Linked DNA regions of Homo sapiens. The protein of the gene in region 1 interacts with the protein of each later gene in a pairwise test. Each region holds a gene or a part of one and is shown on either strand. Other genes may lie near its edges.

What was found. The genes of interacting proteins can lie anywhere in the genome.
Region 2: the proteins of FGF14 (region 1) and HOXD12 interact in binary tests that used the Homo sapiens proteins (3 or more experiments, as listed by UniProt).
Region 3: the proteins of FGF14 (region 1) and FKBP8 interact in binary tests that used the Homo sapiens proteins (3 or more experiments, as listed by UniProt).

What each region holds. Positions count from the first base shown.
Region 1 is NC_000013.11:101,909,818-101,914,693, forward strand, and holds part of FGF14 (fibroblast growth factor 14), read right to left. Parts: intron 1-4,876. UniProt on the Homo sapiens protein: Probably involved in nervous system development and function.
Region 2 is NC_000002.12:176,097,813-176,103,366, forward strand, and holds HOXD12 (homeobox protein Hox-D12), read left to right. Parts: upstream 1-1,982; 5' UTR 1,983-1,989; coding exon 1,990-2,563; intron 2,564-2,709; coding exon 2,710-2,948; 3' UTR 2,949-4,677; downstream 4,678-5,554. UniProt on the Homo sapiens protein: Sequence-specific transcription factor which is part of a developmental regulatory system that provides cells with specific positional identities on the anterior-posterior axis.
Region 3 is NC_000019.10:18,532,802-18,537,677, reverse strand, and holds part of FKBP8 (peptidyl-prolyl cis-trans isomerase FKBP8), read left to right. Parts: coding exon 1-77; intron 78-4,330; coding exon 4,331-4,408; intron 4,409-4,876. UniProt on the Homo sapiens protein: Constitutively inactive PPiase, which becomes active when bound to calmodulin and calcium. Seems to act as a chaperone for BCL2, targets it to the mitochondria and modulates its phosphorylation state.

The sequences.
Region 1 (4,876 bases):
AATAGCAAAGACTTGGAACCAACCCAAATGTCCAACAATGATAGACTGGGTTAAGAAAATGTGGCACATATACACCATGGAATACAATGCAGCCATAAAAAATGATGAGTTAATGTCCTTTGTAGGGACATGGATGAAGCTGGAAACCATCATTCTCAGCAAACTATCACCAGGACAAAAAAACCAAACACCGCACGTTCTCACTCATAGGTGGGAATTGAACAAGGAGAACACATGGACACAGGAAGGGGAACATCACACACGAGGGCCTGTTGTGGGGTGGGGGTAGGGGGGAGGGATAGCATTAGGAGATATACCTAATGTTAAATGACGAGTTACTGGGTGCAGCACACCAACACGGCACATGTATACATATGTAACAAACCTGCGCTTTGTGCACATGTACCCTAAAACATAAAGTATAAAAAAATAAATAAAATAAAAAGTAAATCAGACCAAAATAATAATAATAATAATTATCCAATTATAGCCATTGCTATGCGTTCATTTATCTCAATTGTATTCTATGCTTCTGCTGCATATATGTCCTGACAAATGTGGTATGTTTCATTCACTCAACAAATACTTCTGAAGTGTTAGCTGTATGCCAGGCACTGGTGAGACAATGACTTTGAAGTGGCCCTTCCCTATGGTGATGCCGTATGGGTTCCTATCAATCCCAATATCAAAAACCATAAAATCATAGGGAGAAACATACATTCCACAAAATAAATTACAAAATTTAATTTTATGAAAGGAGACATTTTTCTGAATGACAAAGTAGTACCTATCATAAAATGGTGTAGACACTGTGTCTGCATTTCTACGCATGCCTACTGGTATACTGTCACCCCAGTAAACAGCAAATGGTGACATTTTCATGTGATCTGAGTTTCTTAAATTGAATGCTGGACCATTATAGACCAAAACTATGAAATTAGTTGTTTTCTAATGCAAACACTGTAACTGGCTTTAAATTGCATTGACGTCTCTGAAATGGTCTCTTAGAGATTTGGATTCGTGTGTGTGTGTGTGTGTGTGTGTGTGTGTGTGTGTGTGTGTGTGTGTGTGTGTGTTTTAGTTGTTGGGTGCTAAAACAATATTTGAAATATTATATAACATTTGTATTATCTAAATATCATAGTCCTCTTTGGCTAAAGTTTCTCAACATTTGGGGAGACATTAATATAAATTATATCTAAGAAAAATATAGAATTCCATAACTAAGTGGATAAATCATATTTAGAAACCTTTCCTTTTAAATTTCTACCATTTAAAAAAATTTAAATAAATAAAATTTAGAAGACGTAACTTTACACCAAAGAGAAGGGAGGTTCTTGTTGGGTTTGAAAATACTTGTTCTCACAGTAACATCATAGAGAATGGAATTACTAACAAAAATCACAAGTTTGGGGCTAAATGTAAAAGTATTCAAATTCAAAATGTGAAGTGAAGCCCGTAATTGATTACGGTAACTTTGGGACAGAAGGTTTTGTGTATCTGAAATCTTGTTAGGAAAGGTCACAGGATTTCTTCACCAGACAGTTGGCCATAGATTATTAATATATGTAAACTCAACTCAATCTATGGATATAACTAAACCCAAAGCAAACCATCTTCTTTATGTTTAATTACATTATACCTAATCTGTTACACTATTTTACACTTTACTTATTGAACTACTGAGGTATTAAACATTTTCAGAAACCTATAGCAAATATGGACTGTGAAATCATAACAATTAAGCCACAGGAGGAAAATGCATAAACAATGAATGCCTTTTTTGTCTCTAACATTATTTCATTGACCAATCTGGTAATATTCTCATAAGATTCCCTGCTTAGAAATTGCATTTATAGTATGTCCCTTGTTAAAAACAAAACAAAACAAAACTCAACATTTTAATTTAGAAGACCATAATTTGATCTAACCTTAATACAACTAACAAATAATAAAATTATAATTATCAAAAAGTTAGCAACAGGTATTAATATGTAGTAAGACTCCAATGGGTATGGCCTTAGAAAACCAACACCAAAGAGAAAATATCTTCCAAAAAATAAAAAGTGCTTTGAAGAAAAATGTTCCCTTGTTTTAGTTTAGCCAAAACAGCCAAAACAAACAAGCATGTGGTCTTTGTATGAGCACATGGTAATGACACTAAAACAGTAGCGCACAAAAACAGTGTTTTTTTTTTTTTTTGATGACTATTTGCTGTGGATTATTTTCTGAGACGGTAGACACTTGTTTCCTTACATAGCACCTTGTAAGAAGGAAGGACACTTTTCTTAGAATAACTGATGGATTTCACTATCACACTGGAGCAAAGCAGTTTATTTCTATAGGTGTACATGCATTTCTGCTTTTTATATTATGCATTAACTTGAAAACACATTTTAAGTACCTCACTTTCCATTCCTTATACATACTGTAATTTATTTTAGTTAAAATGTTAGTAAGAAGCCCAGGCACCTGCTGATTAAGCATACATGGCACATAATACCATAGCTCTCATGATCACAGCCCCAAAAAAGTAAATCTCAAGAAACAACTGCATTAGCAGCCATGCCAAAGATTTAGAAAGGTTATTATCCTGTGAACAATTATGGTTCTTGTTTGATTGAAAAATTCATAATAAAAACATAACACTTTTGGGGATACAATGTTCATTATACACCATTGTAGTCAGTGGCTACTTTAGTTTTCATTTTTGTTAAGATTCCAAATAATAAAACTATTTGCAAACTGTTGATTTCCTTGTAAATTCCCCTTTCTTTGGCTAAATCAATATATGTAAATATCTTTGTTCATATATTAGTTAAGCTTTAAAATGAGGTTGTTTATGTTCTTGCATTCTTATAAATAACCCACAAATATGTAATCCCTCTAATTCTCTTAAAAAAAGATATAATTATATTTATTTAGGGAAAGTAAAAAAGGTATAAAATTTGAAAAGTATTTTTATGTCTAAAATTATCTAGTTAGATCACTCTGGTTCAAGGATACTTTCTTTTTTAGCTTGGGCCTATTAACCTTCCTTATTTCACTCCAATCCAAGGGCAATGAGGAGAACCCAGTGTATGGCAAACACTCTCAAGATTTGAGAGCCTATGAAGATGCAGAAAACACAGACTTTGCTTCTTCCCTACAATCAGCTGAATATGTATACTTAATTAATTATTATCAGGTATATATAAACAACAACAGTGACGTATGAAATACCACAGGAGAATTATTTTTAATTGTATCCAATAAATGAAGGCTTCTCAGAGGAGATGGCATTTTCTCTCAGCTTTTCAAAATGAGAATAATTTCATAATTTCAACAGGTGAATGTAGAAGTGAGGAGAAGATGCTAGACACACAGTAAAGCACAAACAAAAGGATAAGGATTTGAAAGCATATGACTAATTTGCGGGGTGTGTGGCATTGTATTGTGTTTGAAATCTGTGGAGGTCGGTGGAGGGTAGATGGAGCTGAATCTGGAAAGGTGGGTTGCAGTCATGCTGCCTACCACACCATTAATAGCCATCTTGCAAATTTCTGTCCTTCACAAGAGTAAGTCAACTGGTATAAACATCACTCTTCTATAGGGGTAGGGGTGATGGAGATAGGAAAGAGTGTGGGTGTAGGGCTCCAACTCAATAATCTTTACATTAAATAAATTACTACTTAATAAAGGATTTTTTAAAACCCTACATTTCAAAAATGTGTATTACCCTTCCCCAAAACACAAAATGTGGAGCTATTCTTTATTCTGTTTTCAAGCATATCACACTATATTCTACTTGACAATGTGCTTAAAATTTCTATGCCTCTTTTTTTTCTCCCAATGGGACAATATTTTTTCCACCTCAAGGTCTCTGCACACACATTGCTTTTTCTACCTGCTCTTAAAATCTCTGCATCCTTCTTACCTGTCATCTCTCAACCTGTGGATCCCAGTGTTGCCCACCCTGACTACTTTATCTAATTAGATCCCTCTCCCCACCCCTCTCTCCTCCATAATTCTTTATCCCAGCTCTCTTCATGCTTTATAGGACTTTGAATTTTATTATTTCTTATTAATTTGTTCCTTTCCATAGGCAATGACTCTCTACCCCATGTTTGTGAGCTCCATGATGGCAGGAACTTCAACTCTTCTATTCACTGCTGTATGTATATATAATACCTGCTACAGAGCCTAACAGATTGTAAAGATTCAATAATTGTTATATTATTTTCAGCTATAAAGACATATAAAACCATCAGACTTAAAGGTTGTATCTTTAATAAATATGATTTTTTAAAATTTTCTGAGGGCAATTCCCTATGTAAAGAGTGTGTAATAAGAAGGTAAATATGCTTGAAAATATGTTCGACAATAAGACTTAATTAAATGAATAATTATATTGTTATATATAATAATATAAAAGCATACTATTATATGTCGATATATAATTTACATAACATAAAGTCTTAATATTTGTTTTGCTTAAAATTAGTGATACTAATAAATTAATCCTTTTCTGATACTCAAGAGATATATCTGTATTTTTCTCCTCTGAAGAATATATATACTTTTATATAAGAAATATAAGAAGAATAAAAAATTCTCATACAATTTCCTTATAACGTATCTTCCCTTCTATTTTCCTGTCCAAAGTAAGGTAGAAAAGTGACCTCAAATATATTTTTCTTACAGAACATTGAAGATTGCTTATCATTTCAAAATCAGGAATACCAACAGAGCAGTCAGGGTTGAAAATGGAGAAACGGACCATTAGAAAACTCAGACAGCTTTCTATACTGACAAAAAAGTAAACACCCAACTTAAAATTCATTAAGTGTAAAGCAAATCCTCCTTCGCCACCCAATATGGCACAAAACATTTATTG
Region 2 (5,554 bases), on another chromosome or scaffold:
CAAATCCTGTTCCATTCTCTTAATCACCAGCCAAGCCACTCTCCCGCCACTACTTTCCACCCCGATCCTCCCTCGATCAGGTTCCCCAGCTCGCATAAGACTTTGCCTGCCAGACCTCGAAAGTCATAAACCCGGGGGATGAAGTGGGAAGACTGTCCAAGGAGCAATGGAGGGAACCTAGTTGTTCTTGTTTTTCCTGTTTTTCACTGAGTTCTTTTATGCCTTTAGTCCTGAGGCGCAAACAGCTGTTGTAGGGCTGCCTAAAGGTCCGAAAGAGACACCCCTCGGCTTGGAAATAACGAGGAATCGTCGTGCACTGAAACGTGAGGAGAGACTGCAGGGACCCCTGGAGCTGGAGCTTTCGGGAGTAACGAAGCTGCAGCTCCTCGAAAATAGGATGGGTTCCCCAAAATAAGAGCTCTTAGGGATCTGAGGCTTGTATTCCCTTGAGTATCTAGGAACTGGGATTGCAGTTTGTGCTTGCCCCCACCTCCCAAGAGAGGACGAGAGCGAGTGAGTCTCTATGCCTGGGCTCCTAAGGAAACTCTCTGGCAGAGCCAGAGGAGCCCCAGACATCCCCACCCCCCCGTCCTCACTCCCTCTCTCCCCCCCACCAGAGCAGGAGGAAGAGGCCGATTGCGTTCCCCAGAGCCACCCAATTGGTCGCCATAACTCACACAATAAAGTGGCAGCGCGGCGGTCAGTCTTGCCCTCCGGCGGCGCCTGTGTGGTCTCAGTGCAGGAGCCCGCGATCTAACCAATTCCAGCTTGGCTCGGAGACCGAGGGTCCTGCTGCAGGCTGAGACTGGCGCCGGTCACCGGGTCTCCCAGGGTCTTGGGATCAGAGGCAGGAGGGGAGGACCCCTAGTCCTCTGGCCGGACTAGGCAAGAGGGCCAGCGACGGGGTCTGAGCACACCGCTCCCGGCTAAGAACTGCTGCCTTTCCCACTTCCCTGTTTGTCAGACCCGTGAACTCCCTATCCCCGGCACCCCTGGGGGCGCTGAGGCAAGGAACTCTGCTAGCCAGCTGCCTCCGAACGCCCGCTGTTCCCCGGCCAGGTGGTTCTGGCTCTTCTGCCTTTCCACACCCAGTCGGGGGAGTTCGTCCTGCTTTGCCCTCCACTTGGTGGATGGGGACACCTCGGAGTTCTGGTTTGCAGTGTGTAGTCCTGGAGAGGACTCCTGAAGATAAAAGGAATGTAGCCTTTGGCCACGATTGGTGGATCGAGCTGATGGGTTCCCTGGCGGACATTCTCCATGGACCTGTATGGCAATTTCCCTATGATCAGAGTTCTTAGCCATGGGGACACAAACCAGAAATAGTGTGGCCTCCTTCCTGGATCCCAAAATTGGGTAGTTTGTGATGCCCTTTTTGTGTCTGCGGCCTGGGACTGAGGGCTCAAGTAGCGAATGGGTCTTTGCTGCCAGATCCTCAGGCAGAGGTCTCTGGAGAAACCCTCTCTGTGGGAGTGATTGGGGTAAAAGTGACATTGCTCAGGCCAAGGGACAGAGCTCCTGGTGCCGCCGGACCGCGCCCTCTCCGGATAAGTCGAGAGGCGCCGGTTAATGGAAAATGCCTCCGCTGCAACTTAAAGCCGGTAGAAGCAAGCCGGGCCCAGAAAGCCTGCGGAAAACGAATCGCAAAGCCAATCACGACCAAGAAGAGTCCCAGGGGACACTTGGGCAGAGTCACCCTCTTGCCCGATGTCCCCAGCTGCTGAAGCCGGGCCTGGAAACCCGCAGACAGTTAGTCTTCGCTCAACCTGATTTGGCTCTGCTGGCAGCCTCGTCCTTCGCCATCGAACATTGCGGGTGTTATCATAATACTCTGAAGGGGGGGAAAACGGGTCGGGGGGATGTAGGCGGTGCTGAAATGACCGGCTTTGAAGAACCTGCAGGCAAAGTTTCGTCCAATCGTCTGAGCCTGTCCTCTTATTCCCGGTTGTAACTAAATACTGTTGCGAGCGCAGCCGAAGCCCTTTGTTGGAGATGTGTGAGCGCAGTCTCTACAGAGCGGGCTATGTGGGCTCGCTTCTGAATCTGCAGTCGCCAGACTCTTTCTACTTCTCCAACCTGAGGCCGAATGGCGGCCAGTTGGCCGCGCTTCCCCCTATCTCCTACCCGCGCGGCGCGCTGCCCTGGGCCGCCACGCCCGCCTCCTGCGCCCCCGCGCAGCCTGCGGGCGCCACTGCCTTCGGCGGCTTCTCGCAGCCCTACCTGGCTGGCTCCGGGCCTCTCGGCCTGCAGCCCCCAACAGCCAAAGACGGACCCGAAGAGCAGGCTAAGTTCTATGCGCCCGAAGCGGCCGCTGGGCCAGAGGAGCGCGGTCGTACCCGGCCGTCCTTCGCCCCCGAGTCTAGCCTGGCTCCTGCAGTGGCTGCTCTCAAAGCGGCCAAGTATGACTACGCTGGTGTGGGTCGTGCCACGCCGGGCTCCACGACCCTGCTCCAGGGGGCTCCCTGCGCCCCTGGCTTCAAGGACGACACCAAGGGCCCGCTCAACTTGAACATGACAGTGCAGGCGGCGGGCGTTGCCTCTTGCCTGCGACCTTCACTGCCCGACGGTAAACGGTGCCCATGCTCCCCGGGCCGGTTTGGGCCGGGATGGGAGGTGGGGTTCAAGGGAGAGTGTAAGGGGAGGTGAACCGCCTGGGGGCGGGCAATAGACAGAGTACGGGCTGGGTTGACGTGGGTTGGGGCTGTGTTGCAGGCCTGCCGTGGGGGGCGGCCCCGGGGAGGGCCCGCAAGAAGCGGAAACCCTACACGAAGCAGCAGATTGCGGAGTTGGAGAACGAATTCCTCGTCAACGAATTCATCAACAGGCAGAAACGCAAGGAATTGTCCAATAGGCTGAACCTCAGCGACCAGCAAGTCAAAATCTGGTTCCAGAACAGGCGTATGAAGAAGAAGCGCGTGGTGCTTCGGGAGCAGGCGCTGGCGCTCTACTAGCCGCGCGCGTGGCCAGGGCCGGGTTGGATCTGCCCTTTTGGACAGAGGCCTTGTTTGGGGAGGGGGATCTGGGGCTAAGGCTAAGGCTTTTCCTTCGGTTCCTTCTCTGCTGGCCCCAGAAGCCACCAAGAGATTTACAGACCAGGCCAGTTGGGCCTCCTTGCTTTCCTCAGTCCCTGAGAAGCCCGTGAGAAACGTGCGGAAGTACCAGTGCAACTCTGGCTGGCCTTAAGGCTTCCACGTTGGGGGACTGAGGCCAACTCTCCTTGCTCCTGGCTGGGGCATTTGCACCCACCGCTCATTCTTGCTCCCCGGTACCTGGATTTTTCTGTTTCCACCCAATTCGTTCTCCCTTTCCCCCTCTCTCCAGCCCCTTCAGCGTATAGCAGTCGCCTAGTTAGGGCTCAGAGTGGAAGGCCTCCTGAGGGAATGGAAAGGACTGTGGGTACAATTAGGTCTCTGCAGCAGAAGCCCTTTGTGGCAAGGCCAGGATCTTCACTCTGGAGAAAGGAAAGGGCACCATCCACCCTCCACCCTCCTGTCTGCCCTGGCTGATTTGAGAGAACAAAAGCCACACTAGATCTTCAGACTTTGGGAGGAAAAGGGAGGGAAGGGGAGGGGCTGGGTAGTGGGGTAAACTTGGAGATATCTCGAAATGAGAAATGCGAAATAGGCTGGCCTATTTCCAGCTGGGTAGAATATGTGGAACCTTCATTTCCTGAGATGGGATGAGAGAGACTGGGACTCCAGACAAGTGCCATCTCCAGACAAGACTGGCAAACATTGCCCTACTCCCACCTTCTCAAACATGCCTAGGCCAGGCCTATGAACCCTGTAACTGGATCCCCAGAGGCTAGCTCTGGTGAAAGGAGCTGTTGGTCTGCTTTGAAGCTCTGTTGCACAGGGAGAGGGAAAAATATCCAGGGGAGGAGAAGGGAGTGAATAAGAGGAGGAGGGGTGCTGCACTCCAACTGTAAATATGGCTTTCCAGTTGAGGTGAGTAAAGGTGTTGGTGCATCTTTCTTTCTTCAATTACCTTAATGGAACCCCATAAGGATAGGCAAAAATCCTTCTCAAGAGTCAAGGGGAGGGGAAGGAAGTCTCTTAGATTCTCTGCCCCGCTAGCTGCTCTTGACAAAGCAAAGAGGACCAGAAGTTCCTCTCACCGTCTCTACCATCTGCCAACTCTACCAGAGGCCCAGCTACTGTGCCCCTTCTGAGGCATGTCTGGCCTGTCCCAGTGGAGACTTTAAGGCCCTGGGCCCTGCCAGGCTTGCCTCATGGAGGCAGGGGTTCCCAAATGCCAGGTGGAGTTGTTCTGGGTGTACTGGAGTGTCCCGCCTTAATCTCAGTGAACCAAGCCTCCCCCTGCGAGCTCATTCCACTATCCCTGCCTCTTCTCCCCTCTCCTTCTGACATGTAGCACTCCTCCTTCGCAATTCCTAGCATGATGCACAACAACTCAAGGATTCAGGATTCCTTCCCAAAGTCCAGTGATTTCTTTTCAGTGCAGGACCTGGCCCTAAATCTGGAGTGGGCCCCTCACAGAGAGCCCTGAGCCTTAGCCCAACTGACTTCAGTTGATATTTAAACTAATTTCATTTTCTAGGCTATCTAATAGTTATCATGCATGTTTTGTTTTGATTTTGTCAAAAACAGTAGCTTGTATATATCAGACACAATATATACAAATGTTTTGAGTGAAAATAAATATCCAGGTCTGAGCCAAGCTGTCAAGGAGCTGAAGTCAATTTTTCAAAATGTTTTGGATTCCACCTTAATGTTTTTCAGGCCACCAAATTCGTTTTTCTTTTCTGGTTATTGTTTCACCGCGAGTGTTGACTGTTCGTTAAATGAGAAAATGGCTTCCGAGGCAGTCAGGAAATGGTGTGTAAAAGCCTACAAACCAAATATGTTTGGAATATCCAAAAGGGAAGGACCATGGCAGATCTGAGTGTGTCTCACACATTAAGGGGACTCTCAGCTTGTTGCAAGCTGGGACTTCCACACTTAGCCTAAATTCTCAAATTTTAAAGCTTGCTGGTATTCGGGGTCTGTAAAGATTTGAGGTTCTTCAGATGTCAAAACAAAACGTCTGTCTCCACCGAATTTTGGTCTGACTTCTCTGGAACCGGCTATGTCCTGCTAAATCCTTGATACCAGCAGGTTTACCAGGCGCCCAGCAGACTCCCTTGGGAAATGGGGCCTCAAAACTCCCTAGTCCATCTGAACCTCTAGCTTAGTCCAGGAAATTCAGGGCCTGCTTGCTACTCATTTTCTTGCAAAAACAAGCTCCTAGCTGGTGGAGGTGGAAACTAGCTTTTAGCTAGAGGAAGAATTAGCAAAACCACTAAATCACTAACACTGAATATTCAACATTTCAACTCCCTTTCCCAGAAGCAAATTTGGTGTATAATTGAAATTTTTAATTGTTCTTTAATTGTATACACACACACAACTATATATACCTATATGTATATATATTCAATAGGAGAGAAAGAAGCAAGAGCTGCCAAGGCCCTATGGCTCAAAAGGATTCTCCACCTGGCTGGGCACATAGAGGCGATGGTACCCAGAGCAGGATCTCCAAGTCTGAGTCTGCATTC
Region 3 (4,876 bases), on another chromosome or scaffold:
GCGCAGCCCTGCGCTCCTGCAGCCTTGTGCTGGAGCACCAGCCAGACAACATCAAGGCTCTCTTCCGCAAGGGCAAGGTAGGCCACACCGGGGTGCCAGGCCGGGTCACTCAGCCTGGGGTATACGGGGTGGTCCCCAACCCTGCATTTGAGAAAGGCATAGGTATATAAGCCAGCTGAGCTCTGTGGGGTGCAGGTGGAGAAACTGAGGCCCAGACGGGTGCAGGAGTGTGGCCTGGTCACAACAATTCATTGGCTGAGGCCAGAATTTGATCCTCGAGTCTTGGGTCCCCAACCTTTGGCCCAGTGTTTTTTGTTTGTTTGTTTGTTTGTTTCTTGAGACAGAGTCTCACTCTGTCACCCAGGCTGGAGTGCAGTGGTGTGATCTCAGCTCACCACCGCAACCTCCTCCTCCTGGGTTCAAGCGATTGTCCTGCCTCAACCTCCCAAGTAGCTGGGACTACAGGTGCGAGCCACCACACCCAGTTAATTTTTGTATTTTTAGTAGAGATGTGGTTAGCCATATTGGCCAGGCTGGTCTCGAACTCCTGACCTCAAGTGATCTGCCCGCCTCAGTCTCCCCATGTGCTGAGATTACAGGCCTGAGCCACCGTGCCCGGCTTGGCCCAGTGTTGAAACCTCCTCCCATAGAACCTCCATGGGTCCCAGTTTTCCTCAGAGTAAAGTGGAATCCTAGTCACAGCCCTTGGGGCCTTGAGTTGTCTGGTCTTCCCCCTCCTGCTATCACTTCTCCCACCTCACTTTCTGCTTCTCTCCATCCCACGTGGCATTCTCCCTTTCTGCTGTCTAGCCAGGCTCTCTCCACCTCAGGGCCTTTGCGTAGGCATTGCCGACTGTCTGAGATGTTCCTGACAGGCAGCACGTGGAGGTGACATGCCTCTTGTCCATCTACCTTACTCAAAGGTGGAGATTTGGTCTGTCTTGCTCACTGCCGGATCTCCAGCCTTGCAAACAGGGCCAGGTACATAGTAGGTGCTCAGTAAAAGTCCTGGCAGAGGCCAGGCACAATGGCTCATTCCTGTAATCCCAGCACTTGGGATTACAGGAGGCCAAGGCAGGAGGATCGCATGAGCCCAGACATTTGCGACGAGCCCAGGCAACATAGGGAGACCCCCTTCTCTACCCAAAATATACAAAAATTAGCTGGGTGTGGGGGCGCGGGCCTGTCGTCCCAGTTGCTCAGGAGGCTGAGGATGGCTTGAGCCCCGAAGGTCAAGGCTGCAGTGAGCCTTGATCACACCACTGCACTCCAGCCTTGGCAGCAGAGCAAGACCCTGTGTCAAAAACAAAACACGAGAACAGAAAAAAAAGTTCTGGCAGAACATAGGGGTGAATCTGGCTTGCACAGACTTGACCTTCATTCTCACCCCCTTTTCTGTTCATCCTCACAGCCTCACCCCTAGGTGGGGCTTTCAGGACCTTTTAGCAGTTAACGAAGGAAACTGAGGCACAGATACTGGCTCACCTGCTGTGTTTCTGAAAAGCCTGAGGTGGGGCTCCCTCCAGCTGGGATTTATTAAGGACATACTGTGTGCGGAGTTCTGCAGAGAAATATGAAGAGGGAGAAGATGCAGTTCCTGTTTTTGAAGGCTTTGTTCTCAACCTGGGGGTAGTATCCTCCTGGGGGCAGCAGGAGTGGCTGCTTGTGTAGCTTCATACAAGTTTGGACCTGCTGGTTGAAGGTGATAGAAACCCACTCAAACAGGTTCAAGCAGAAAGGAGGGATCGATAGCTCATGGAACTGCCAAGTTTGGATTAGCTGGCTTCAGGCATAGCTGGATCCAGGCACTCACAATATTGTGGGGATGCTGTTTCTCTGCTCTGACCTTCCCTCCTGGGCCGGCTCCTCTCTCAGGGTGACCATGATGCTCCCCCCTCCCCCCTGGAAAGTTACAGATTTCCATCTTCTACCCCCTCCTTTTTTTTTTTTTTTTGAGACAGAGTCTTGCTCTGTCACCCAGGCTGGAGTGCAGTGGCACGATCTTGGCTCACTGCAACCTCTGCCTCCTGGGTTCAAGCGAGCACATCCAGCCTTTTTTTGTATTTTTAGTATAGACGGGGTTTCACCATGTTGGCCAGGCTGGTCTTGAACTCCTGACCTCAAGTGATCCACCTGCCTTGACCTCCCAAAGTGCTGGGATTATAGGCGTGAGCCACTTCGCCCAGCTCCATCTTCTCCCCTTAGCAACCCATCTCCCATCAGCACCAGCATAGTGCAGGCTGGATCTCATTGACTCATTTGGGTCATGTGCCTGGTCCTGAATCATTCACTATGGCCAAAGCTTTGGAAACATCAGGGCCAGGTGTGGTGCCTCACGCCTGTAATCTCAGCACTTCAGGAGGCCAAGGTAGGAGGATCATTTGAGCCCAGGAATTCAAGACCAGTCTTGGCAGCATAGTGAGACCCCATTGCTACAAAAATTTAAAAAATAATTAAGGGCTGGGCGTGGTGGCTCACGCCTATAATCCCAGCACTTTGGGAGACCGAGGCAGGTGGATTGGTTGAGCCCAGGAGTTCGAAACCATCCTGGGGAACATGGCCCTGTCTCTAAAATAAAATAAATAAATAAGTAGGCCTGGAGCGGTGGCTCATGCCTGTAATACCAGCACTTTGGGAGGCTGAGGCAGGTGGATCACTTGAGGTCAGGAGTTTGAGACCAGCCTGGCCAACATGGTAAAACCCTGTCTCTACTAAAAATACAAAAATTAGCCGGTGGTGGTAGGTGCCTGTAATCCCAGTTACTCGGGAGGCTGAGGCAGGAGAATGGCGTGAACCCGGGAGGCAGAGCTTGCATTGAGCCAAGATCGTGCCACTGCACTCCAGCCTGGGCGAGAGTGAGACTCCATCTCAAAATAATAATAATAACAATAGTAATAATAATTTTATAAATAAATACATAAATAAATAATTCGTTGGACATGGTAGTACACGCCTGTAGTCCCAGCTCCTCGGGAGGCTGAGGCTGGAGGATTGTGTGAGCCTAGGAGTTTGAGGCTGCAGTGAGCTATGATCATGCCATTGCACTCCAGCCTGGGTGACCGATCAAGACCCTGTCTCTAAAGGAAAGAGAAAAAAAAAACAACAACCTCTGGAAGCATCCATTCGGCCTCTCGCCAGTGGAGGTGGTGAGGGAGGAGGCAGCGAGGTGGGTGCCTAGATCTGCAGCTGAGACAGGAAGGAGGAGCATGTTGCGGGGACCAATGCCAAGCTAAGTGTGCACTGATGGAGTTTGAGGGCTAGGAGAGCAGTTTGGGAGTGGCTGGAACCCAGGGATGTTGCCAGAGCTCCATTTGGCACTTGTATGAGTAGCCAGGAGCCTGGCTGTTTTTTTTGTTTGTTTGTTTGTTTTTGAGACGGAGTCTCGCTCTGTCGCCCAGGCTGGACTGCAGTGGCGTGATCTCGGCTCACTGCAAGTGCTGCCTCCTGGGTTCACGCCATTCTCCTGCCTCAGCCTCCCGAGTAGCTGGGACTACAGGCGCCCGCCACCATGCCCGGCTAATTTTTTTGTATTTTTTAGTAGAGACGGAGTTTCACCATGTTAGCCAGGATGGTCTTGACGTCCTGACCTCTTGATCCGCCTGCCTTGACCTCCCAAAGTGCTGGGATTACAGGTGTGAGCCACCGCGCCCAGCCTTTTTTTTTTTTTTTGAGATGGAGTCTCACTCTGTCGCCCAGGCTGGAGTGCAGTGGCACGATCTCGGCTCACTGCAAGCTCCGCCTCCCGGGTTCACGCCATTCTCCTGCCTCAGCCTCCCGAGTAGCTGGGACTATCAGGCGCCCGCCACCTCGCCCAGCTAATTTTTTTTGTATTTTTAGTAGATACAGGGTTTCACCGTCTTAGCCAGGATGGTCTTGATCTCCTGACCTTGTGATCCGCCCGCCTCGGCCTCCCAAAGTGCTGGGATTACAGGCATGAGCCACTGCGCCCGACCCTTTTTTTTTTTTCTTTTTTTAAGACAGGGTTGCACTCTGTCACCCAGACTGGGGTGCAGTGGTGTGATCTCGGCTCACTGCAACTTCTGCCCCCTGGTTCAAGCAATCCTCCCACCTCAGCCTCCTGAGTAGCTAGGACTACAGGTGCATGCCACCACGCCTGGCTAATTTTTGTATTTTTTGGTAGAGACGGGGTTTCTCCATGTTGGCCAGGCTGTTTTTATTTTATTTTATTTTTTGAGATGGAGTCTTGCTCTGTTGCTCAAGCTGGAGTGCAGTGACACCATCTTGGCTCACTGCAACCTCCTGGGCTGGATTTCTTGAAGGACAGGCCCAGGTATGGGTCCAGAGTGATGCCACCCCCTTCCCCTTACAGGTGCTGGCCCAGCAGGGGGAGTACAGTGAGGCCATCCCCATCCTGAGGGCAGCCCTGAAGCTGGAACCTTCCAACAAGGTGAGCAGGACAGGGGTGCCCTGGGACTTGCTCGGCTGGGAAGTCCCTCCTGCGGTCTGCCCCAGGTCTTTCTTGCTGTGGCTCTCTGTTGTGTTCCCACCTGGGCAGTGGCACGGAGTAGGTACCTGAAGGGTCCTGGTCAGCTTGTGAAGACCCTCATGACGGCCACACAGGCAGTCTGGGCTCTCACTCCTCCAGCAGCTGAGGGCACTGCCAGCCTGCTCCATGCCAGTGTCCTTGGCCTTCCTTCCAGAACCTTTTGTCTCCTGGCTACCTTGTGCTCTGCGCCATCAATTGGCTCCCTAGGAGGGATGGGGTCAGCAGCCCTGACTTTGCTAAGCCCAGAAAGGGGCAGATGGGACCCCTGTGTCCCAACAGTCCCACCACCCAAACAGCCTAGGGTCCCAGTAAGGCAGAGCGCCAGTGATGACAGGTTGGCCGCTGCGTGTTCTCAGCTTCCCCTGCCTT